Regions from separate parts of the Homo sapiens genome. Here region 1 is linked to region 2. Evidence: fine-mapped expression QTL. A gene starts in region 2. The other region holds a variant in brackets. All regions are shown on one strand. Distances are between the middles of the regions.

Region 1 (12,339 bases), 200 kb before region 2:
AAGACTCCTGCCTTGGCCTACCAGTGCTGGGATTACAGGCATGAGTCACCATGCTTGGCCTCAGACCTTCCACTCTTTATTCTTTCCTCTGCCTGGTCCACCTCATCCCCAACCACGGTTATTTTAACTCCATACAAGTAACTCACCAACTTTTCTCTCCTGTCTGTAACTTCACTTGAGTTCCAGATCTATACAGCTAATGGTTGACTTGTGCCTTTTGGATGTTCCAAATGTACCTCCCCTTGAGTACGTGCAAAACCAAACTTTGCAAACACTTTAGAAAGCCCTGGGAGGCCCTCTGCTATCTGGTACCAACAGCCACCTGCCCCATTCTCCTATACACCCTCTTGTACACAACTACTCCAGCCTCATAGCTTTTGGACCTGCTATTCTCAAGGTCTGGGACCTTTGCTCAACCTCTTGATAGCTGCATAGCTTATTCTTTAACTTTTTTTCTGGTTTTTGCAAAAATGCCATTTTCTTTCTGAAGTCTTTCTTGTTTACTGTATTTAAAATTGTAACTCCATCCCCAACACCTGCCTCTCTAGTCCCCTTCCCTAAGTCCTTTTCTCCATGATACTTACTGAGTAGCTACACTGTAGGAGGCAGTGTTCTAGGCCATCTCTCATACTAAATAGTTTATTGATTTATCTCATTTTTTGATCTCTCCAAGCTGGAACATAAGCTAGATAATTTCAAGATTTTGGTTCGTTTTGACTCTGCTCCCATGCCTATATTAGAGCCAAGTATATGGTAGGAGTTTAATAAATATTTACTCAAGGAATAAATTCATTCTCTCCTCTGTGACTCTGGCCTTTTCCGGTCCTCCTGTCCCAGTAAATGGTTCAACTACCCCCTCCAATGATGCAGGCCAGAAGCCCAGAAATCATTCTTGACAACTCTCACTTCCTCACCCACACAGCCCATCAATCATCAGATGGCTGTGACCTCATCTCCACCCCTCTAGTATTTCCGCTTCTCTGTAAAGCCACCACCCCCACGTCCCGAGTCTAGCCTGTCATCTCTTTTCTGAACATCTGCAATGGTCTCTTAGTGGTTTACCTGCAGCACCTCCCATCCATTCTCCATGGATGACCATGGAGACAAAAGCCAGATGACCTTTCCAACACGAAAAGTCTGCAGCAGCTCCCACTGCTCTCAGGATGTAGACAGAACACCCCAGGAAACCCCAAGGCCCTGCAGGCTCTTCCAGGGCTCCCCGCCTCCCCGCTGGCACCCCAGCTCTCTCTGTGCCTGCTGCACTGGCCCTTCCTTTCAAGGCACTGCCCTGCTCTTGCCTGATGCTTCCTCTGCCTGCAATGCTTATTCCTACCCCCTTTACCTGCTCCACTCCCAGCTTACCTTTCAGGTTGCAGCTGAAACAGAGGATCCCTGGAAAGTCTTTCCTGATTTTTTTTATTTTATTTTGAGATGGAGTCTGGCTCTGTCGCCCAGGCTGGAGTGCAGTGGCACCATCTCGGCTCATTGCAATTTCTGCCTCCCGAGCTCAAGTGATTCTCCTACCTCAGCTTCCCAAGTAGCTGGGATTACAGGTGTGAGCCACTGTGCCAGGCCCTGATTCTTTTTTTTATTAAGACATAGGCTGGGCACGGTGGCTCATGCCTATAATTCCAAAACTTTGGGAGGCTGAGGCAGGGGGATCAACTGAGGTCAGGAGTTCGAGATCAGCCTGGCCAACATGGTGAAACCCCATCTCTACTAAAATACAAAAAATTAGCTGGGCCTGGTCGTGCACACCTGTAATCCCTGCTACTTGGGAGGCTGAGGCACGAGAATCGCTTCAACCCAGAAGACGGAGGTTGCAGTGAGCCGAGATTCCACCACTGCACTTCATCCTGGGTGACAGAGCGAGACACTGTCTCAAAAAAAAAAAAAATAAATAAATAAATAAATAAATAAATAAATAAAATAATAATATTAAGACATAATCTACATACAGTAAAATGGACCCCTTTTAGTGTAAAATTCTGTGAGTTTTGACAAACATAACCAGGACCACAATCAAGATACAGAACAGTTTCACTGCCACCAAAAATTTCCCCAGGCCCTTCTGCAGCCAACCTCCCCCTGGCCAGCAACCACTGATCTACTTTCTGTCCTGATAGGAAGCGTTGCCTAGGCAAGAATTTCGTATAAATAAAACCACAGAGTACGCAGCCTTTTAAGTGTAACTTCTTTTACCTAGCAAGCTGCATGTGGGTGGGAATCATGCCCGCAGTTGTGTGTATCAGGAGCTGACTGCCTTTGGCTGCTGCAGTATTCTGTTGTGTGGATACACTGAAGTTTGTTTATCCCATCACCAGTTCAGGGACACGTGGATTGGATCCTGTCTTTGGTGACTATGATTAAAGCTGCTATAAATATTCCTGTACATTTTTTGTAAAAGGGTAAGTTTCTATTTCACTTGGGTAAATACTTCCTGGTTACAGATTCTTATAGCACAGGGTATCTTTCTTGGTTATAGTTTATTTATTTATTTATTTTTGAGATGGAGTCTCGCTCTGTCACCTAGGATGGAGTGCAGTGGTGTGATCTCGGCTCAATGCAACCTCCACCTCCTGGGTTCAAGCAATTCCCCTGCCTCAGCCTCCTGAGTAGCTGAGATTACAGGCATGCACCACCACGCCCAGCTAATTTTTGTACTTTTAGTAGGGACAGCGTTTCAGCATGTTGGCCACACTGGTCTCGAACCCCTGACGTCAAGTGATCTGCCTGCCTCAGCCTCCCAAAGCGCTGGGATTACAGGCATGAGCCACTGCGTCCGACATGCAGATTAAATTTTACATTCATGTGTGATTAAAATCTCCCCTCATGAGTTTAGGTTGTAAAATCCATGAGAGTAGGGACTATGTTTGACTGTAATCAGCAAGATCTTTCTAATGCCTTCCCTATGCCTGGCACACAGTAGATGTTCAATAAATATTTACTGACTGAATGAATAAACTGTCTCATTAGGCACTGTTAGGAATGTAAATTGCTTGCTTTATCGCTTGTTTTCAAATTAGGAGAAAGCAGATGGATAATAAATGTTTAAGCAAAGCTCAGCTCTAAAAGAAACTTTTCGTAAGAGATAAGAATTTTTATTTATTAAACTATAAATTGAATATCGCATTATACACAATTTTGAGATGGAAGAAAAATACCATCCTTGTCATTATTATTATAATAAAATGTTTTATTTTGGGATACTCCTGCAGTCTGGTTCTTGGGATACCTATTTTCAAATTAGCTCTGGCTAGAAACATGGTAAACAACGAAATACATCAGTCCACACTTTTCCCTGGCGTGACCCGTAGCAGCTGACCAGTGCGGGGGATGGTTCTGTTTTTCCCTTTTTCACTGCACCTGGGAAAAGTCATTTCACAAAAGACCTGCAGAACACCACGGGTGTCCGGGGGTGTGGGGTGAAGAGGCCGGCTGCTCAGGAAGTGGTTTCCCTCCCCTACCTCCCACAGCGAGAACACGGGTCGGCAGCTGCTAACACCCTGTTGCCCATCTGGAAAAGAAATGAGTCTCTTCCCTCCTCCTAATGGCCTGGGAGACCACCATCAGGTTTCTTACCCGTAGGAAAGAAGGAAAGCCCTGTCCATAGTATCCAACAGCAAAGTATTCAGGCTGAGGCCTCATTGCCTTAATGATGTTCTCATAAAATGAGGCCCTTTTTTTCTGGAAAACAAAACAAGACATTCCAAGGGGAGGTTATAAGTACACAGTTGGGGGAAAAAAAAAGTCAGACTTTGTTTTGTTGTTTCCCACGTAACCCAGAGCAATGAAAGGTCTTTGGAAAACACCCTATGGGCAGAAAAGGGTTATCCTATTCTCGGATCACAGGTTTTGGACCTGGGCTCCATGAATGGACGTTGGAAGGCTGTGACTCCCTGAGGGTGTATGCTGAAGTGTGTGCACGTTGGAATTCTTCTGCGTAACGGGGCAGTGCACAACTTTCAGCAGTTTCTCAAAGTGGGCTCAGGGACTACAAAAGGTTAAAAAGTGCATTCTGAGATTCACAGAAGGCGGCTGCACTTAACCAGACACCCATGGGAGAAGATAAAGAACCTTCCAAGGCCAGGCGCAGTGGCTCACGCCTATAATCCTTGCACATTGGGAGGCAGAGGTGGGAGGATTGCTTGAGGCTAGGAGTTTGAGACCAGCCTGGGCAACATAGTGAGACTCCATCTCTACAAAAAATTAAAAAATTAGCCAGCAGCTGAGGCAGGAAGATGTCTTGAGCCCAGGAGTTCAAGGTTGCAGTGGGCTATGACTGCACCACTGCACTCCAGCCTGGGTGACAGAGTGAGACCCTGTTTTGAAAAAATAATAATAAAATAAAGAACATTTTTAAAAAGAAGGACTGTGTAGTTCATGCAGGTGGTCTGGATGAAAGTGTCTGGTAAATTATAAGTGCCCAGAAGGTGGTGGTGATGTTCGGTTTTTCAGTATCTGCTACCATCTTTATCTTTAATTCTTCACAAGATGAGGGGCTTTCCAGCTTTGGCTCACAAGGTCAGCCTTAAAGAAAGCAAAATAGCCAGCCAGACGTGGACAGCTTTGAGCAATGACCTGAGCCCCCTCCCCTACAATGGTTAGCATGCCATTACTCTTCTATCTAGGTGATGGTCTCGTCAAAATACTATTTTCTTAGACCGGTATGTAACATGTTACATTACTAATATTTCAGCTCAGTTCAGTTGATGAAATTTTTTTTTTTTTTTGAGACAGGGTCTCATTCTGTTGCCCAGGCTGGAGTGCAGTAGCATGATTACAGTTCACTGCAGCCTTGACCTCCCAGGCTCAGGTGATCCTCCCACTTCAGCCTCCCAAAAGTAGCTGGGACTAGAGGAAGGTGCCACCACACCCAGCTAATTTTTTATATTTTTTGTAGAGATGGTGTCTTACTATGTTGCTCAGACTCGTCTGGAAGTCCTAGGCTCAAGTGATCCATCTGCCTTGGCCTCCCAAAGTTCTGAGATTACAGGTATGAGCCACCGTGCCCAGCCCAGTTGATGAAATTAATAAGTCAGTTTTTTGCATGTGAAGCCAGGGGCTGGTAATAGCACACTGGTAAACTTTTTACAAAGTGATCTTGACACCCAGCTCCTCAAATAAATGATTATTTCATGACTATGGGTGACCTGATCTTTTCTAACTCCTCTACTAGAAATTATTAAATTTAATATTATGGTTGCCTACCACTGGGCATTCAGAATGGTGGCTGCCTACCATCAGGCATTCAGAATGGTGGCTGCCTTCTATTGGGCATTCAGAAGAGTGGCTGTCTACCACTGGGCATTTGGAATGGTGGCTGCCTTCCACTGGGCATTCAGAATGGTGTCTGCCTACCGCTGGGGCATTTAGAATGGTGGCTGCCTTCCACTGGGCATTCAGAATGGCTGCCTCCTCCACTGGGCATTTGGAATGGTGCTGCCTCCACTGGGCATTCGGAATGGTGCTGCCTCCACTGGGCATTCGGAATGGTGGCTGCCTCCACTGGGCATTCGGAATGGTGGCTGCCTCCACTGAGCTTTCAGAATGGTGGCTGCCTAACACTGGGCACTCATTTTTGTTTTGCTTTACTGATGGCTGGGAATATGGAGGGCCCACAGAAAGAAAAATGGCTTCAGGAAGAATGAGAGAGCTGCAGACAGAGATCCTGAGGGATGTGGAAAGCGAGTCACTACTATCTGAAACTCAATATTCCACCACACTGTCGAGACAACCCCACTCCACTTCCAGAGATGTCCTGAACCTTCTCTGAAGGATATTTGGCAGAAATATTGATCAGAGCCTTTGGACTACATCTTTTTTCATTCTCATTTCAAGCAAAGTTGACTTTTCCATTGTAAAAAAACACCATTCATCCTGACTTTCAACTTACGGAAACATTTTCATGAGTGCTAATTTTAGCAACCCTGTCAGAGGCCTAACATATTTTGACCCAGACTCACCAGGAGGTTGCCAAGGCCCTCGTAGTCAAATACTTTGCTTTCGTAAGTCTCAGCCAACTCTTTGCTCAGCTTGATGGCCTTCTCCCACATCTTCAGAAAAAGGAAAGTAAGGTTAAAAGTGGAGAACAAGGCAGTCATTGATTCAGTGGCAAAAGCCACTGGCGAGTCACTGGGAATGAGCAAGTGGTCTGGGGGATTGAGTTTCGGTAGATATTCCTCACTCGCTTTATCCCTTAGATCAGTGAAACCTTCATTTCCTGACATCATAAAGACAGTGTATATTGGCAGCTTTGCCAGGGGCGTCTTCTGTAGTTCTGTTTGCACGGACATTAAGAATAAGTACCATGTGTCGCCCAAAAAAGCAATACTGTGTTTAACAGGTCAAGCACCTACAGCACTTCAAAGTAGAGAGGAAGCTCTGCCAGCCCAGGTTCGGAAAGCATGCAAGTCTGGTTGGAGGGGGAAGGGAAGTTTCTGTGGGACTTTGGTTCTGAAATGTGTGTGTACAGGTGTGTGTATGGGTGTGTGTGTGTGTGTGTGTGTGT[A/GTA]GGTGTAGTGATGTTGTTTGTGGAGATGGAAAAAGGCTAACAGTACTGTTGTGTGGTGTTGCAGGAAGTCAGGGACCCCGAATGGAGGGACCGGCTGGAGCTGCGGCAGAGGAACATAAATTGTGAAGATTTCATGGACATTTATCAGTTCCCAAATAATACTTTTATAATTTCTTACGCCTGTCTTACTTTAATCTCTTAATCCTGTTATCTTTGTAAGCTGAGGATGTACGTCACCTCAGGACCACTATGATAATTGTGTTAACTGTACAAATTGATTGTAAAACATGTGCGTTTGAACAATATGAAATCAGTGCACCTTGAAAAAGAACAGAATAACAGCGATTTTTTGGGAACAAGGGAAGACAACCATAAGGTCTGACTGCCTGCGGGGTCGGGCAAAAACAGCCACATTTTTCTTCTTGCAGAGAGCCTATAAATGGACGTACAAGTAGGAGAGATATCACTAAATTCTTTTCCTAGCAAGGAATATTAATATTAAGACCCTGGGAAAGGAATGCATTCCTTGGGGGGAGGTCTATAAATGGCCACTCTGGGAATGTCTGTCCTATGCAGTTGAGATAAGGAAGAATAAACAGTCTCCTGCAGTACCCTCAGGTTTACTAGGGTTGGGAAATTCCACTCTGGTAAATTTTTGGTCAGACCGCTTCTCTGCTCTCAAACCTTGTTTTCTGTTAAGATGTTTATCAAGACTATACGTGCACCGCTGAACATAGACCCTCTTCAGGAGTTTCTGCCTTTTGCCCTTTGTCCTGTTTCCTCAGAAGCATGTGATCTTTGCTCTGCTTTTTGCCCCTTGAAGTATGTGACCTGCTCCCTGTTGGTACACCCCCTCCCCTTTTGAAATCCTTAACAAAAAGTTGCTGGTTTTGCAGCTCAGGTGGGCATCACGGTCCTACCGATATGTGATGTCGCCCCCGGCAGCCCAGCTGTAAAATTCCTCTCTTTGTACTCTTTCTCTTTATTTATCAGCCGGCCAACACTTATGGAAAATAGAAAGAACCTATGTTGAAATATTGGGGGTGGGTTTCCCCGATAGTGTGGAATTTGGCAAACTGTATTTCAATGCAGGGCACTGATTTCCCTACTTAGTGGATGAGTTTTAGGAAATGCCTCCGAGCATGTATAACCATGTAAGTTACAGGCTAAAGCACGTCCTCAGTGTCTGAGGCTAGCAGCCCAGATTGAGCCTTCTAACCCCTTTGGTATTTCATGAGCTGTCTCTTAGACGGATACTATTCAACTTGCAGCATCGGGTCACCTCCTGCTTCATTCCTGTTCACAAGGTGCTATGTTCCATTGTTTCTGGCTTCTGAGGAAATGTGTGCAGAGCCCACAAGCCATTGGGAAACACTTCAAAATTAAATCTTTTAAAATCATTGTTTGCAAAATCTGTCCCCCTCTGAAATCTCAGAATTCAAGAATACACAAGGGAAGAATAAACAGTAGCTGTGAGTTATTGTTGTATATTAAATCATGTATCTGGTCTTGGTCCTGAGTTCCGGTGAATTTTCTTAGAATTTCTCAAATAATAAGAGTGTCTTTGTTATTCCTGGTGCCCCCACCCCAGGATCATACCCAAATCTATGCTAATGAGGTGACTCATGGTGGTCTCCTAGTCTCAGGATGGGGGCTGCCATGCCAGAAATACTAATCATGTGACTAGAAGGTTAGGGCTGTGAGCCATGCGATATCAGCCCAATCTTCAGGGACAAAAGGAAGGCTAAAGATCAAGTTCATTGTGTAGTTAACGATTCATTCAATCCTGCCTGTATAATGAAACCCCACAGTGGCTCATGCCTGTAGTCTTGGCACTTTGGGAGGCCAATACAGGAGGATCACTGGAGCCCAGGAGTTCTAGGTTCTAGACCAGCCTGGGCAACTGGTGAGACCCCATATTTACCAAAAAAAAAAAAAAGAAACCCCAATAAAAACTCTGTACACCCATGGCTTGGGTGAGCTTCCTGATTGAGGAACACACTGATTTGCTGGGAAGGTGCCCCGAGTTCACAGGGGGAAGACACAGAAGCCCCACGCTTGAGATTCTCCCAGACTGTTCCCTATGGGTCCCTTCATGTGGCTGGCCCCAGTTTACATTCTTCCTGATGAAACTGGAATGGTTAAATATAGCACTTCACTGTGTACTATTGGTTGTTCTAGCAGACTATTAAACCTGAGGGGGCAGTGGAAGCCCCCCAGATGTATACCCAGTTGCCCAGAACTGTGAATGGACTGGGGACCCCCAAATTTGAAGATGGCATCTGAAGCGGGGGCAGTCTCGTTGGAGACAGTGCCCTGAACCTGGGTAGTCAGTGCTAACTCCAAGTGGTGAGCATCAGAATTGTATTGCGATACTGCGGTCATTTTCCTCTTTCCCCTAGTACAAAAACAATCCAATACTCACTTTGCCTTTGTCGAAATATGATATGATTTCTTGATACAGCTTCTCTTTAAGCTCTTGCTGGGTATAAACATAGTAACTGTCCTTCTGAAGCAAATGAGGCACACAGGGCTTGTCAGACCACTGAAAAGGAAGAAAAGCGACACACGGTTAATACAACAAATATTCAGCCCCCCAACATCAAGAAAATATTGTATATATATTTGACTCATTGATTTTGTATTTTAGATTATGTATTAAACACAAAAGTTACATATACACACATATACACATGCCAGCTCCAAAACAAGAGTATCATGCCAAATGAAGGAGCACTCACAGCATCCCCCCAAAATGCCAGCGACAAAGCAAGGTCGCTAACTGACATGACTGTCGTTGTACTGGGGCATCAGTAACACAGTCAGATAAAAGGAACAAATTAGGAGTATAAAAATGAATAGGAAGAGGTAAAACTACCACAATTTGCAAACATTATGGTTGTATTCCTCACAATGCAAGGCAGTTGACTAAGAAACTGCGACACACAATAAGAGAATTAAGTTACGCAGCAGGAAGAACAATTAATATACTTGAAATAAAATTTATTTCAGATACACGGAGACTAAATATACAGAATAGAAGAATGGAACCAAACAAAAATAAGTCCAAAAAGAACATTTCTAAGAGTGAACATTACAAGGAATATGCAAGACTTATATGCAGAAAACTTTCACACGCCATTGAAGGGCACAAAAGCAGACTCGAACAAATGGAAAGTCATACCATGCTTTTGGATAAGAAAATTCTATTTCATTAACATGTAAATTCTCACTAAATTAATTTTTAAATTTCATCTTTCCAAAGTCCATATGGAAAAATTAACAAAAAGGAATAGGTAGGAAAACTCTGAAAAAGAAGAGCAATCAAGAGTAACTACCAGGTCATAAAACACACTATCAAGAATTAATAATTAATACAGTATGGTACTGGTACATGAACAGACAGAGACCCACGTAAAAGCATATACAATCTAGAAAGAGATTCCCTCCCCCCAAAATAAGAATTTAGTAATAAAGATGGGATCTTATACCAATAAGCAAAATGTGAACTATACTTAACAAACAGCATCTCTATTGAATAGCAATCTGGGGGGAAAAAAAGCTGCATTCATACCTCATATCTTACACCAGGATAGGAGAGTTTACCTTCCTGAGTTTCCCAAATGAAAAGACCTACAGTTACAGACACTGGGGATTTCTTTCTGATCATACAATGGCGAAATCCACAGTCAACAAGCCTCACTTTCTAAGCTATATACAGTAGGTTGCTTTTTTTTTTTTTTTTTCTTTTGAGACACAGTCTTGCTCTATCACCCAGGCTGGAGTATGGTGGCACCATCTCAGCATACTGCAAACCTCCGCCTTGCAGGTTCAAATGATTCTCCTGCCTCAGCCTCCTGAGTAGCTGGGACTACAGGCAGGTGCCACCACGCCTGCTAATTTTTTGTATTTTTAGTAGAGATGGGGTTTCACCATGTTAGCCAGGCTGGTCTTGAACTCCTGACCCCAAGTGATCTGCTGGCCTCAGCTTCCCAAAGAGCTGGGATTACAGGCGTGAGCCACCAGGCCCAGTCCATTATACAATAAGCTTTTTAATGCCCTAAACTTAAATATGAATTGTGAATTTCCTTTGGGAAGTGGTGAGGCATAGGAATCCTATTTTTAACTCATATGTTCGGACAATGCCCATATATTACTTTAGTATAAAATATAAACTGTAAAAGAATATTAATAGCTGAGAACAAAACTGGAGGCAGAGACACCAAACAGGAGGCTGCTGTAGTGCTCAAGGTGTGACATGCTTACGGGATGGACCAAGGTGGTAGTCAGGGAGATAAAGAAAAGTGGATTGGCTAGCATGGTGGCTCATGCCTGTAATCCTAGTACTCTGGGAGGCTGAAGTGGGAGGATTGCTTGAGCCCAGGAGTTTGAGACCAGCCTGGGAAACATAGCAAGATCTCATCTCTTTAAAAAAAAAAATAAAGAAAGAAAAAGAAAAGCGGATAAGTTAGGGGCATGTTCTGAACAGAGGGGCCACATCTCTCGCTTGTGGAGAATGTGGGAGGTGGTGAGTAAAAGAGAGAAATTGAAGATGACTATGAGGTTGCCTGAGCAACTAAATGGATGGGAATGTTATTAGTAACATGGTAACAAAGTGAGGTAGGATGGGCTGGGGAGGAGCAAAGAGTGAGAAATAAAGGTTCCTGTTACCGCCTTGTTCAGTTTGAGCTGCATATTGGCCAATCAAAGTTTATATGTAAATCCAAAGTTAGAGAAGGTGCTCAGGGCTAGAAATAATTACTTGGGATTCATAACATATAGATGTATTTATATCTAAACCACAACATACATTTATTTAGGGAGAGAATAAAAATAGAGTACTTCTATGGTACTATATTCACTTATAACTCATCTTTCTGCAGTTTTCTGCAGTTTTACAAATTTTTTTATGTATTCATCAATGTGTGTTTTATTGCTTTAATTAGAGTGTCAATTACCAAAGGTTCATAAGTCGTGCTCTGCTTTCTAAGGATTTTTAAATAAAAGATAACTGACATTTTCCCATACTTGATCTACAAATTAGCTGTGCCTATTTAGAAAGAACTAAAAAAACTTGTATAAAAGGATATTCCTGGAATAAAGTTCTTTCCCATCAAAATCATGAAATGTATAGAATTTAGTCTGAAAGGACACTGTACTCCACCCTGTTGAAACAAGCTCTCTGAGCCATTCACCTGCAGAAGCTCAGCGTGCAAGAGAAGCGTGTAGGCAGCTTCTGTGTAGTTCTCACAGTCTCGGTGCAAATCTCGAAGCTTGTACAGATATCTGGCAAGAAGGGGAGAAGGAAGCATTTTGTCACTCGAGAGTTTTATAGGTTTTTTAGTTCTGTTTTGAGACAGGGTCTTGCTGTATTGCCCAGGCTGCAGTATGCAGTGGTCCGATCATGGCTCACTGCAGCCTTAAGCCCCAGGGCTCAAGTGATCCACCCACCTTAGCCTCCTAAGTAGCTGGCACGTGCCACCAGGCCCGGCTAATTTTCGTATCTTTTGTAGAGACAGGGTTTCACCATGCTGCCCAGGCTCGAGAGTTGATTTAGTGTTCAGCTCATTCCATAACCAGACCCCAGCCTGCTTCCCTGCCTGACCCCCCTCCCCACTACTGTACAGAAGCAATTCCTTCCTCTTGAGCCAAGAAGTCGGATCTTCCCCATTTCTTCAATACACTGTGCACCTCCTGCCTCCGTGTTTCTCTGACTCCACCTAGACTAGTTTCTCTTCTTTCTTTAAGGCAGTGGTGTTTAATGTTTTTAAATATTAGGTCTTGGACCCCTCTGGGAAGCTAATGAAAGCTATGGAATCTCTCCCCAA
Region 2 (12,320 bases):
CTACGGTTCCTTCATCCAGAAACCAAATCTGACCAGTACACACTTAGAGAAGTCCAGAAAGCCAATTTTCCCAACTATATTTAAGAAAGTCTGTCTGCTCCATGCTTCCTTGTTTTCTCAGCAGAATATCTCATTCTCTTACTTGCAGAGATAAAGACAGAGTGGAGGCTCTCCCTTCCTCCATCTAACCAAACAAAATTCAACTCATATTGGGGTGAATGAGATGTTATGCCTAATGGGAAGAAAAAGAAGAGGAAAAAACTGCATTCAATTACCAGACAAGCTAGGTTAGTGTACTTTAGAACGGCACCCCAACATCAAGGACAAGCAAACTGAATGCACTAATACCTGGTACACCTGTTGAGTGCTAGGAATACAAAACCACAATGGTCTGATTCACTGAACCCAAGGATGGCACAGTCCAGGAACTGCGAGGAAGAAGCAAGGAGGTTTGGGACAGTCTGACAAATAGCAAATTTGAAGAAGGGAGTAGGAATGGATTTGAGCCCTCAAGGAAAGGTGAGCTGTCTGAGGCAGAGTTGGGAGGGCACTCCTGGCAGGGACAGGCACAATGGGAGCAAAGTCCCAAAGGAGGGACTCTGCAGGGTATGTTGCACAACAGTGGGAAGGGCAGTTGGTCTGCATTGGAGAGCTAGTGAAAGAAGCCTCGAGAGATAATGCTGAAGATAGGCTGAACCAGATTATAGGAACCTTGGAACGGAGGCTCAGACTTTATCCTGTTGACCACGAGAGACTTCCAAGCAGGGAGGTGACATAAACATAAGCAAGGAGGTGACAAAAACAATGAGTTTTAGCAATAAGCAATGGAGATTTCTCTCTTCAGTTAATTTATCCCAACTGTGGGTCCTTTTGTCAAACCCAGACAAACCAGAATCTATGTCTGGTGAAATAAGTGTTCAGAATTATATCCTGGAGCAGTTTCCCTAACACCTAGGCCCTGGAAATGCAATCCAAATATTTTACACACACACACACACACACACACACACACACAATTTCCACCCATATTTCCATATACATATATATATACACACACACACATATACGCATATATACATATATATGTATATACATATATACATATATGTGTGTGTATACGTGTGTGTGTGTGTGTATATATATATATACGTATATATATGTATATATAGTTTTTTTTTTGAGATCGGGTCTCACAGTATCACCCAGGCTGGAGTGCAGTGTCGTGATGGGGGCTCGGTGCACCCTCAACCTCCCAGGCTCAAGCTATCCTCCCACCTCAGCCTCCTCAGTAGCTAGAACCACAGGCACAGGCGACCATGCCCGGCTAAATTTTTTTCGTATTTATTGTAAAGACCCGTTTGCCATGTTGCTATGCTAGTTTTGAACTCCTGGGCTCAAGCAATCCTCCTGCCTCTGCCACCCAAATTGTTGGGATTACAGACGTGAGCCATCGCACCTGGCCCAAATATTTTTCTTGACTGATAAGTGACACAGTAAACTGACTCCAGAACATAAAAACAAAATATTAAAAACAATTATACTTGCTCCTAGGACTATGGCAATAAAAACCACATTTTTGAAACATGTTTGCATTAATTACCCTCAACTGAATAGTTTTGAAAAGAGCTTTTAATCCTGATAAAATTAGAGTTGATAACATTTCTGTAGTGATTGGGCATTGTAAATATGCTTTCATCTAGGGGCCAGGTGAGGTGGCTCATGACTGTAATCCCAACACTTTGGGAGGCCGAGGCAGGCGGATCACCTGAGGTCAGGAGTTTGAGACCAGCCTGGCCCAGATGGCGAAACCTGGTTTCTACTAAAAATACAAAAATTAGTCAGGTGTAGTGATGCAAGCCCGTAATCCCAGCTACTCGGGGAGGGGGGCTGAGACAGGAGAATTGCTGGAACCTAGAGGTGGAGCTTGCAGTGAGCCGAGATTGCGCCACTGCACTCCGGCCTGGGCGACAGAGTGAGACTCCCTCGTCAGTCCGTCTCAAAAACAAACAAACCAAAAAAAAAAAAAAAAAGAGCCCTGAGGCAGAAGCAACATCTCTACCCATTTCTGAGATGCAGCTAAGGGAGAGACTAAGATTCTAAAAGCAACTTAAGAGCAAAAAAGAAAATGTCTTTTGAATTGAGGGAAAACAAAAAATAATAAATATATAAAGGATCACAACCTAAGAATAATATAGTAAATATGAGACTGTTAAAAAACAAAACAAACAACAACAAAAAACCCTGACTCCTGGCTACAGAGTTGAAAAGCCCCTAGACACGTTGAGTAGCTCTTAATTGAGACTGCACTTCATTAACCAGTGAGGTGAGGAAAAACAGGACCTCAGTAAGGGAGTAAAGTCAAAGACTAAATTACAAACAGGCCAAATGAATGGATCTGAGAGGAAGTGATAAAATTCGCAACACACTCAGCCGTGTTTATTGTAGGGAATCACCCCAGGTCTAACTGCCATTGTAATCACCCCGTTCAGGGCAGAAGTCTTCCCACAGGCCCTCAATAACTTCAATCCTTGATAAAAAGCCAAAGGAGCCTGACTTTCCACCTGGGTCAAAATCCCCGCACATCTATTGTTTCGGAGCCAAAGCACCACCACCAGCAACCCCTGCGCACAACCCGGGGCTCTCCAGCACCGCTGTTCTGAATGCCAAGTGCCCAGCACGGGGTCTGGCACAGTTTCCTTAATAAAATGTCCTCTTCTCGTCTCCAGGATGAAACTCAGGATCCGGAAGGCAGCCTTACACCCTCTCCAGACAGGCTCCGTTAGGGGATGAGTGCGCACAAACAGCCCCAGGGGCCAGCCACCCCCTTCCCGTGCCACAACTTCCTGTCCCTTCCATCACTTCCACGCCACGACTCTAGTTTCCATCCAGCTCACAACTGTCATCAAGATCCCAGTCTCTGGAGGAAAGGGGGCAGGGCGGCTTTCCACCCTCAACTCCTCACTTAAGGGGCGTCTGAGAAGAACCTACGAAAGCGGGGGGCAGAAAGCACTGGGACAATGAGCACCAGTCCATGTGCCGACCCGGGCTGGTCACCTACTCCCAGGTGAAACCCACGCTGGGCGCACCGGGGCGAGCCACAGAGCTGCGGCCCCAAAAGAGCAGCAGGCGCGCCCCCCTCGCGTTGACATTTCCCTGGTGTGAAGTGCCGGAGATTGGGATGCAAGAGCGGGATTACGGTCCCGAAGCTCAGCTGCACTTGGAAGCACTCGGAGTCCCCAAACCCTGGGCGACTTCCCCATCGGCGCTCCCTGGAGAGGACTCCTACCGTCCCCGGCTCCCAGAGCTGCGCAGCCGGGCCGAGCCCCCGGCCAGGGTCCTCCGCCGGGCTCTGCGCAAACCTGGCAGGGCCGCTGTCCGCGAACTTGGCCGCGTGGGTCGGGCCGGGACAAGGTGGGGCGCGCACTCACCAACCCCGTACTTCTGCCTCTTGGTCGGGATCCAGCGGGCCATGGCGGCGACCTCGCCCCGCGGCGGCGGCGACTAAGGCTGCTACAGCTCCTCGGGCTCCGGCCGCCGCCGCCCCGCGCTCCTGCGTGCCCCAGACGCTTCCGCCATGTTCCGCCAAACTTCGCTGGACTCCGCGGGCCGCCTCCTCGCCGCGCCGCCCGCGCCCGTGCCCGTGCCCGCGCCGCCCGCGGTCACCTGCTGGGCCGGGCTGCAGCGCAGCAGTGCGCGCCCCTCCTGGCGCCGCCCCAGTCCCTCCCGCCGGCCGCACCCTCCGCCCGCCGGGGCCGCCTCCGAGCCGCGGGCGCCCGGCCTCTCCCGCCCGCGCCGCTCTCTGCGCTCTGCCGGGCGGGGGCCGACTGCGGCTCCGCCTCGCGCGCTTCCCTGGAGCGGCTTCCTGGGCCGGCGGGACTTTGACGCTGGCGGCACTTTGCCTTTCTCCCGCCCTCCCCACCCGGCTGATACCCCGGAGGCTGGGTCCCGGGGGTCCGGCTCCCGACAGAGGGCTGCGCTGGAGGAGCCGGGCACGCCCAGGCCGGGCGGCCGGTGGGCGAGGGATGCGGGCTGCGCTCCCACGGCGCGCGCCGGACACTTGGGGAGCGGAAACGGATCAGCGAGAGCGGCTTCTTGCTCGGGGCACCTCCGGTGCCTGGCACTAAGCGGGCGCGCAATAAATATTTGTTGAATGAATGAGCAGTTGACTTCTGCCTTCACCCCCTGGAGCTTGAACCCGCGCCGCGAGCGGGAGAAGCCGGACTCAGGGCAGACTGAATCTCCCGGGGCCACCGCTTAGAGCCTGGAAAGCAGAACTTTTATCACCGGAGAGCTGGTGCAAGGGAGGTGGGCTCCTCAGAAGTATCAGACCGTTTGCTAGGGGATCCTCTGCAGGGAAATTGTTTAGAAAGCCCTAATTTGGAAGTCCTGTATCCCCAAACTCCGGGGACCCCCCAACCTTAAGCTGAAGAAACTTAGACCCTCATGCCCAGACCTCCCTTTCCCAACCAGCCAGCAGCCCAGAGAGCATTCCCGTGGAGAAAGGGCCAAGGCGCATCCCCGTCTTTTCTCCGTCAACGACTGCCTTTTCTTGACGAAGATCCCAAAGGGGCTGCGCATTTGAACCGCCTTGGGCTCCAGGTGGCGCCCTCTCTGGAGCTCCCCTCTTGGAATTCATTTCTTCCTGGAGAGACTTGGAGAATGAAGATCCAGGGGTTTCTCCCTACCTTGTACCGAGAAGTAACATTGCAAGTAGAGTAAATGACCAGCTTAATTACGTTCACCTTCGAAGAAGATTCCTCTAGAGAGAAATTATATCCTCCTTGCAGCCTGTGAAGGTTTTCATGCGTTTTAGGAATATAAAAGAAAGGAAGACAAACATGTAGTAAAGATAGTAAAGACAGGTAGTTGGCCAGGCGTGGTGGCTCATGCCTGTAATCTCAGCACTTTGGGAGGCCGAGGCGGGTGGATCACCTGAGGTCACGAGTTCCAGACCAGCCTGGCCAACATGGTGAAACCCCTTCTCTACTAAAATACAAAAGTTAGCCAGACGTGCTGGTGTGCTCATGTAATCCCAGCTACCCAGGAGGCTGAGGCAGGAGAATCGCTGGAACCCGGGAGGCAGAGGCTATAAGTGAGCCGAGATCGCGCCACTGCACTCCAGCCTGGGCAACAGGGCAAAACTCCGTCTAAAAAAAAAAAAAAAAAAAAAAGACAGTAAAGATAGATAGGCAAACAAGGTAACAAGATAGTAAAGTTTCATTGGAGAATTAGTGCATTTTAACTTTGGTGGTTTTTTACCAAACGAGGTCTGAAATTTTTTTTAAGTCCTATTCACGGTGGGTAACTACTAGAGCTGGCTTTTTTTTTCTCCATCAACCAATAGGTATTTATTCACAATGTTTAACAATAATTTAAGAAATTCCTCTGTCACTTTAGACTTGACATCCAGAAAGAATTCCACCATCTTCCCTAAAATAATTTATCTTCCTCCATTAGTATATCATGATTCTAATTTCCCAGGTTAGGTAATTTCTTCTTCCTTCTTCACACACATATTAAATGCCTACACGTTAAGTGCCAGGCATCACTCTAAGAATGAGGGTGCAGCGGTGAATACAGTAGAATGTGTCCCTTCACAGAGCTTCTAGTCTAGACGGGGAGAGTAAGACAGTAAAGAAATGTACACCAAACGAGAGTAAACATTAGAGAAAAATCCAAAGCAGGGAGGATAGGGCGTGTAGGGTGCTGCTGTTTTTATGGAGTGGTCTGGGAATGCAGCTCTGCTAAGCTGAGGTTGAGGTGTAGACCTGAAGGAAGTGAAGATTCCGGGAGAAAGTATTCTGGAAAAGAGGAACAGCAAAGGCAAAGGACACCAAGCGTGTTTGGCAGGTTCCCAGGTCACCCAGAGATCCTAGGTAATGAGAGCTGAGTAACAGGTGAGAGGAAACTTGGTCTAAGAGGCAGAGGAATGCCAGATAGAGCAGAACCCTGGCAGGCATATGGACTTTATATATTACTACTACAAGCGAGGTTTGGAGGGCTTTGAGCCAACCTGGAACATATTGAACTTGCCTGCTGTGGTATGAATCCATTGTAAAGGGGCAAGGGAGGCCCACATGGATGGATGTTGGGGGCTATTTCAGTCATTCAGGCAAGACATGAAGGTAGTTGGGTCCAGGAGGATAAGGATGGAGGTGAAAAAGATGTTGGGTTCTTGACATACGTGAAAATAGAGCCTGGCCAGATGTGGTGGCTCACACCTGTAATCCCAGCATTTTGGGAGGCTGAGGTGGGAGGATTGCTTAAGGTCAGGAGTTCAAAATCAGCCTGGACAACATAGTGAGACCCTCCTCTACTATATATATATCCTGGGCATGGTGGCTGTGCCTGTGGCCCTATCTACTCAGGAGACTGAGGTGGGAGGATTGCTTGAGCCCAGGAGGTCGAGGCTAGCAGTGAGCTATGATTGCATCACAGCATGAAAAAGAACCAAGAGGAGGGCCACATGAACGGCAGGGGGATCTACTACTGTGAGGCTTCAATCTTTTTTGGAAAGTTTTCCCCCAGAAAGAGATATGCTTGTATTTTTCTTTTTTTTTTTAAAGAGCCCTACCCGTATCGTACACCCTTCAGGCCCCACACACCTTGGTTCTTGTCCCTGCATGTGAGATACAAGCTGGGTCAAGAATGACTCTAAAGCCAGCTAGGTCGCACATGCCTGTAGTCCCAGCTGCTAGGGAGGCTGAGGCAAGAGGATTGCTTGAGCCCAGGAGTTCCAGGCTGCAGTGAGCTATGCTGATCAGGTGTCTGCACTAAGTTCCGCATCAATATAGTGACATCCTGGGAGCAGGCGACCACCAGGTTGCCTAAGGAGGGGTGAACTGGTCCAGGTCAGAAATGGAGCGGGTCAATTATTTGGAAAGCCCTAATTTGGAAGTCCTATATCCCAAAACTTCGGTACTCCTCCTTAGCTGAAGAAATTCAGGCCCACATATCCAGGGGGAAATCTACCCCAAGACCTCCCTTTTCCAACCAGCCAGCAGCCCAGAGAGCATCCCTGTGTAGAAAGCAACTGGATGCATCCTTGTCTTTTCTCTGTCACTGACTGCATTATTGACAAAGATCCCGTAGCCGGGACTTCACATTTGAACTGCCTCAGGCTCCAGGTGGCACCCTCTCTTGAGCTCCCCTTCTGATCAATAATGGGATGGCACCTGTGAATTGGCACTGCATTTCAGCTTGGACAACATAGCAAGACCCTGTCTCTAAACAAATATTAATTCAAAACAAAAAGAGTGACTCTAAGGTTTGGGGCTTGAATAGCAAGGGAGTAGAGTTGCCATTGTCTTGGTCACCATTTATATCTATCTTGTCTTCACCCTTTCCTGTCCCAGTTGCTCTGTATCAAAGTTTTCCTTTCAATATTTCTTTAGGACCCACTTCTTCACGCCTTCCTCAGCAACTTCTCCATGTGGCCCCTTAGGAGCTAAAGCGCTCTGCACTGGATTATATGACTTGCCTGTTGTGGACTCAGGGCTTCTCAAAGTTACATGAATTCTCCGTGCTTAGGGAAATTGGATGACCTCTGTTCTCTGACCAAAGGTATATTTCAAATGTACCATACATCAGAATGTTAATGCTCTTATCCAGTGGAACTGGGTTTCTACCAAAGCGATTTCAACTGCCTCATCCCACTTTTGCATTGAAGTCTTCTTCTTCCAAAACTAGAGGTTTGAATTTGGGTGCCAGAGATTTCAAATTTGACAATGGCTTTAAGAGAGTTGGAGGAAAATGGAAAATTTTAATTACAGCTTTCAGTATGTTTATCATTTCCTTTTGAAAACTGAAATCCACTCACTTTGCTATATCAGATGGCTAAATCCTAGTGTGAATGTCCTTTTAAATCATAAAAGCAGAGCTTTTCAAAGTCTTTTATTAGAATGAGGCTTAAAATTAGACAGTTAACCAGACAGGCAGTTGGAATGACAGCGTGATGCCCAGAAATACCCTTTTTTTTTCCTCTGATATCTTTTCAGAAGAAACATTAAGCATATTCCACAGAGATCTTCAGACTCCAAAACCCACACAAATACAAACACACTTAAGCACGCACAGACACTCACAGGCTCTGCTTGAAGGAGCCATGGAGAAAGAAATGAGGGTAAGTGGCTTTGAGGGTTAGTTTGACATGAGTATTGTGACTAACCCTTACAATGCCTTAGAGAATAAATGGACAGGATGTGAAGAGAACTGGCAAGAGCCTCACCTCCCTGTTGATTACCAGGCTTGTTTTTGCCAAATCAGGCTGGTCTGATGGCTTCTCTATGAGATGCTGTGGAGTCGTTTAAAGTGTCTTTTTTCTCTCTCTCTCTAGATAAAAGAAGATTATTCTGTGATCCTATACGAGTCAGTGGCTAATGGAACTACCAAAAAAATGATAACAATGCAAATAATGTAATTGGTTCTAAGCAGTGCTTTGCAGGCTCCTAAGGATGGTTCTAAGTAAGCCAGGAGTAGGTGATACATTGTAATTCTGGGACCCATGAGCTTAGCAGGACAAAGGAAACCATGAATCACCCTAGTCCCAGAAGTACCTTTTCATAGGCCCCAGGGATTCCAACATCATTATTCACTCTCCACTCTGCAAGTGACTTAGGTCGTGAGCATCTCTGAGTCTGCACAGGCTCTGCCATGTGGCTGTGGGGGTCCGGCTTCTCTGATGGATGGGAAGATAATGCTCGGGGCTCCAATGCTATTATCTCCTCATCTCTGTCACAAGGAGATTTATACTTATGATTTACCCTTTTCATGAACATGGGAAAATTCTTTTTTCTAGTGTTGTTTCTGGAATGTTCTTTGCTGTGTCTAAATGAGCTGATTCCACTGTTGGGAGAGGTGGATGATGTGAGCAGTAAGAAGGCATTAGTTTCTTGAAAACTAGATCCATATTTAGGTGAGATGAAATCAAACTACCTGATTTTAAAAAAAACAAACTATGTTTATTTACCGTATGTCTTGATTCCTATATACATTGAAAAATTATATTCATAAAACTGTTTAAAATAAGAGATGATGGGCTGGACGCAGTGGCTCATGCCTGTAATCTCAGCACTTTGGGAGGCCAAGGCGGGCAGATCACTTGGGCCCAGGAGTTCGAGACCAGGCTGGGCAACACGGCAAAACCCTGTTTCTACAAAAAATGCAAAAATTACCAGGGTGTGGTGGTGTGTGTCTGTAGTATCAGCTACTCAGGAAGCTGAGGTAGGAGGATTCCTTGAGCCCAGGAGGTGGAGGTTACAGTGAGCTGATGTGGCACCATTGCATTCCAGCCTAGGTGACAGGGGGACCCTGTTCCCCCTGCCAAAAAAAAAAAAAAAAAAAAAAAAGAACAAAAAGAGAGATGATGAAAACTTAGAAGAAATGTGGAAAATGTATAATGTAGGCATAAATGAAAATAATTAGATTGTCTATGCCGCAAAATGATTGTAGCTATAGAAAGTCATAGATTTACAGGGAAAATGACCATAGAAGAACATGAATAAATGACAAATTTTATTCAACCTTCTTCAAAACAAAATAAAGAAAAATACTTGATTGCTGAAGTCTCTGGGCTATGTAGCAAGAGTAGGAAGTTATTTGCCTAAATCTGATCATTTTTTGTGACAAGAGTGAAGTTTCACTCTTCAGTTCCTTGGGCACACGGACACTATGACTATCTTGTTTAGACGACTGTCATATTCAGCAGATTTTTCTTCCTGTTTGTGGTCAGTTAAGAAAACAAGCATTTAATCCAGAACTTGTATTTAATACCAGAACGATTTTATTTTTTCACAGCCACCAACTGTAAAGTAACAATAATAACTGCGTATGAAGTAATGAGTACTGGCTCCAAATCACCTTGTTTAATCCCCATACAACCTAATGAGGTAAATATAACTCTCCGGTCATTCCCACCTCACAAATGTGGCTTAGGAGGTGTCCAGAAATTACCTACATAATTAATTAGTGGCAAAATAAAATCCAGACCCAGACAGCCTGACTCCAGGGTCCATGCTCTAAAGCAGAGGTCTGCAAGCTTTTGCTATAAAGGCCCCACTATGGATAGTTCCCAGGCTTTGCAGGCCATATGGCCTTGTTGCAACCACTCAACTCTGCAGTTGTAGCAGGGAAGCCTCTATGAGCAATACATACAATGAATTGAGTGTGGTTGTGTCCCAGTAAAACTTCATTAGTTGTGTTAGATCAAGTTTAGACTAAACCTGCCTCCTTACATATTTTAAGTTCAGCCTAAAGGTTTCTCTGTACATAGCGAACTATAATCTCAATGGAAGTGTAAACAGACCAAAACCTATTCTTGTGCCAATCACTGAGTTTTGGCCAATCAGAGGAGGCAAACTGTTAAAACTGTCTTCAAATAAGGTAAACGCCCAGCTGCTGAGCTGTAACCAATCCGCCTGTTTCTGTACCCCATTTCCGTTTTCTGTACCTCATTTCTGTTTTCTGTACATCACTTTCCTTCTTCTGTTATAAATCGTCTTCCACCACGTGGCTGCACTGGAGTTGCTGAGCCTACCCCGGCTCAGGAGGCTGCCTGATTCTCAAGTCGTTCTTTGCTCAATTAAAGTATGTTAAATTTAATTTGGCTATGGTCTTTCTTTTAACAGTAGATTTGAAATTTGAATTTCATGTATTTTTATGCATATGAAATATTATTCTGGCCAGGTGCAGTGGCTCACCCCTGTAATCCCAGCAGTTTGAATGGCCGAAGTGGGCAGATTGCTAAAGTCCAGGAGTTCAAGACCAGCCTGGGCAACATGAAGAAATCCTGTCACTACAAAAAACACAAAAATTAGATGTGTGTTGGCACACACATGTTGTTCCAGCTACTCAAGAGGCTGAGGTGAAAGGATCACTTGAGCCTGGGGAGGTTGACCTTGTAGTGAGCTGCGATTGTTGTGCCACTGCACTCTAGCCTGGGCGATAAGAGTGATACCTTATCTTAAAAAAAGGAAAGGAAAGAAAAGAAAAGGAAAGGAAAGAAAAGAAATATTATTGTTTATCCTTCTTTTGATGTTTTTCTTTATCATTTAAAAATGTAAAAAACATTCTTATCTTGGCCAGGCGTGGTGGCTCACCCCTGTAATGCCAGCACTTTGGGAGGCTGAGGCGGGCGGATCACGAGGTCAGAAGATCGAGACCATTCTGGCTAATATGGTGAAACCCCGTCTCTACTAAAAATACAAAAATTAGCTGTGTGTAATGGCATGTGCCTGTGGTCCCAGCTACTCAGGAGGCTGAGGCAGGAGAATGGCTTGAATCTGGGAGGCAGAGGTTGCCGTGAGCAGAGGTCACACCACTGCACTCCAGCCTGGTGACAGAGCGAGACTGTCTCAAAAAAAAAAAAAAAAATTCTTATCTTTATCTTATCTTTATCTTGCAGGCTGCGCAGGAGCAGGTGGTGAGGCAGAGTTGGCTCTTGGGCCTTAGTTTGCCAATCCCTGCTCTACACTATGACTGTCACCCCTTTAGGTGGGTGGGAAGGCTGGGGGCCTCCAGAAGGAGCAGCATAACTAAGGAAGCATGTGTGGTGCTTTCCCACTGGAAGTCTGTTTGCATAAGGATTTGTGAGAAGCCCTTGGAAAAAAAGTCATGGGAAGAGGAGGACTCCAATAGTAAAAGTTGCCATAGAAATCAGAGGATGGGGGCACTTCTGAGAGCAGTGAATATCGTGTGTTGGGGAATTGTCTACTGGCCTAGCCCTTTGAACTCTATTCCCAGTGATAAGAACTATAAATATAAAACTTGGCTGGTCACAATGGCTCATGCCTGTAATCCCAGCACTTTGGGAGACTGAGGCGGGAAGATTACCAGAGGTCAGGAGTTCGAGACCAGCCTGGCCAACATGGTGAAACCTCGTCTCTACTAAAAAGACAAGAATTAGCAGAGCATGGTGGCACACGCCTGTAGTTCCAGCTACTTGGGAGGCTGAGGCAGGAGAATCGCTTGAACATGGGAGGTGGAGGTTGCAGTGAGCGGAGACTGTACCGCTGCACTCCAGCCTGGGCGACAGAGTAAGAGTGTCTCAAAAAAAAATTTTGACTAAGCCCTGGTAAGATAGCAACACACAAACAATGCTTTGGTACCCACTGAACAAGCAGGCTTCTACAGAGGGGAGTGTGGCATTCTCATGGGTATCCCAATGGAAAAGACATGGGGCCTGCCTGAGATAAGGGTGCTAGAAGGAGGTATGACAACATCTATTAAAATATTTGCAAGGCCGAGTAGATATTGGTGATACCACCTGGTGAAGGTCAGAGCAGAAAAAAACAAAATAGCCCAACTGATTTGTGAGTACTCAG

Evidence for each region.
Region 1: its variant is fine-mapped to the expression of DOCK5 in whole blood (INTERVAL, PIP 0.91).

The regions. Positions count from the first base shown.
Region 1 is chr8:25,374,022-25,386,360 of GRCh38, reverse strand. It overlaps DOCK5 (dedicator of cytokinesis 5), which reads right to left. Exons shown (of 52, transcript NM_024940.8): 37 at 11,707-11,797; 38 at 8,937-9,056; 39 at 5,967-6,056; 40 at 3,583-3,687. Among named protein-coding and RNA genes, the nearest start is that of MIR6876, 35 kb to the right of the region's middle. The variant A/GTA (reference allele first, on the strand shown) is at 6,512.
Region 2 is chr8:25,176,060-25,188,379 of GRCh38, reverse strand. DOCK5 (dedicator of cytokinesis 5) reads right to left here and starts at 3,691. Exons shown (of 52, transcript NM_024940.8): 1 at 3,429-3,691. The coding sequence starts at 3,471. LOC124901912 (a long non-coding RNA gene) reads left to right here and starts at 4,003. Exons shown (of 2, transcript XR_007060861.1): 1 at 4,003-7,563; 2 at 8,336-10,599. RefSeq lists silencers at 3,394-3,443, 3,614-3,783, 3,794-3,873.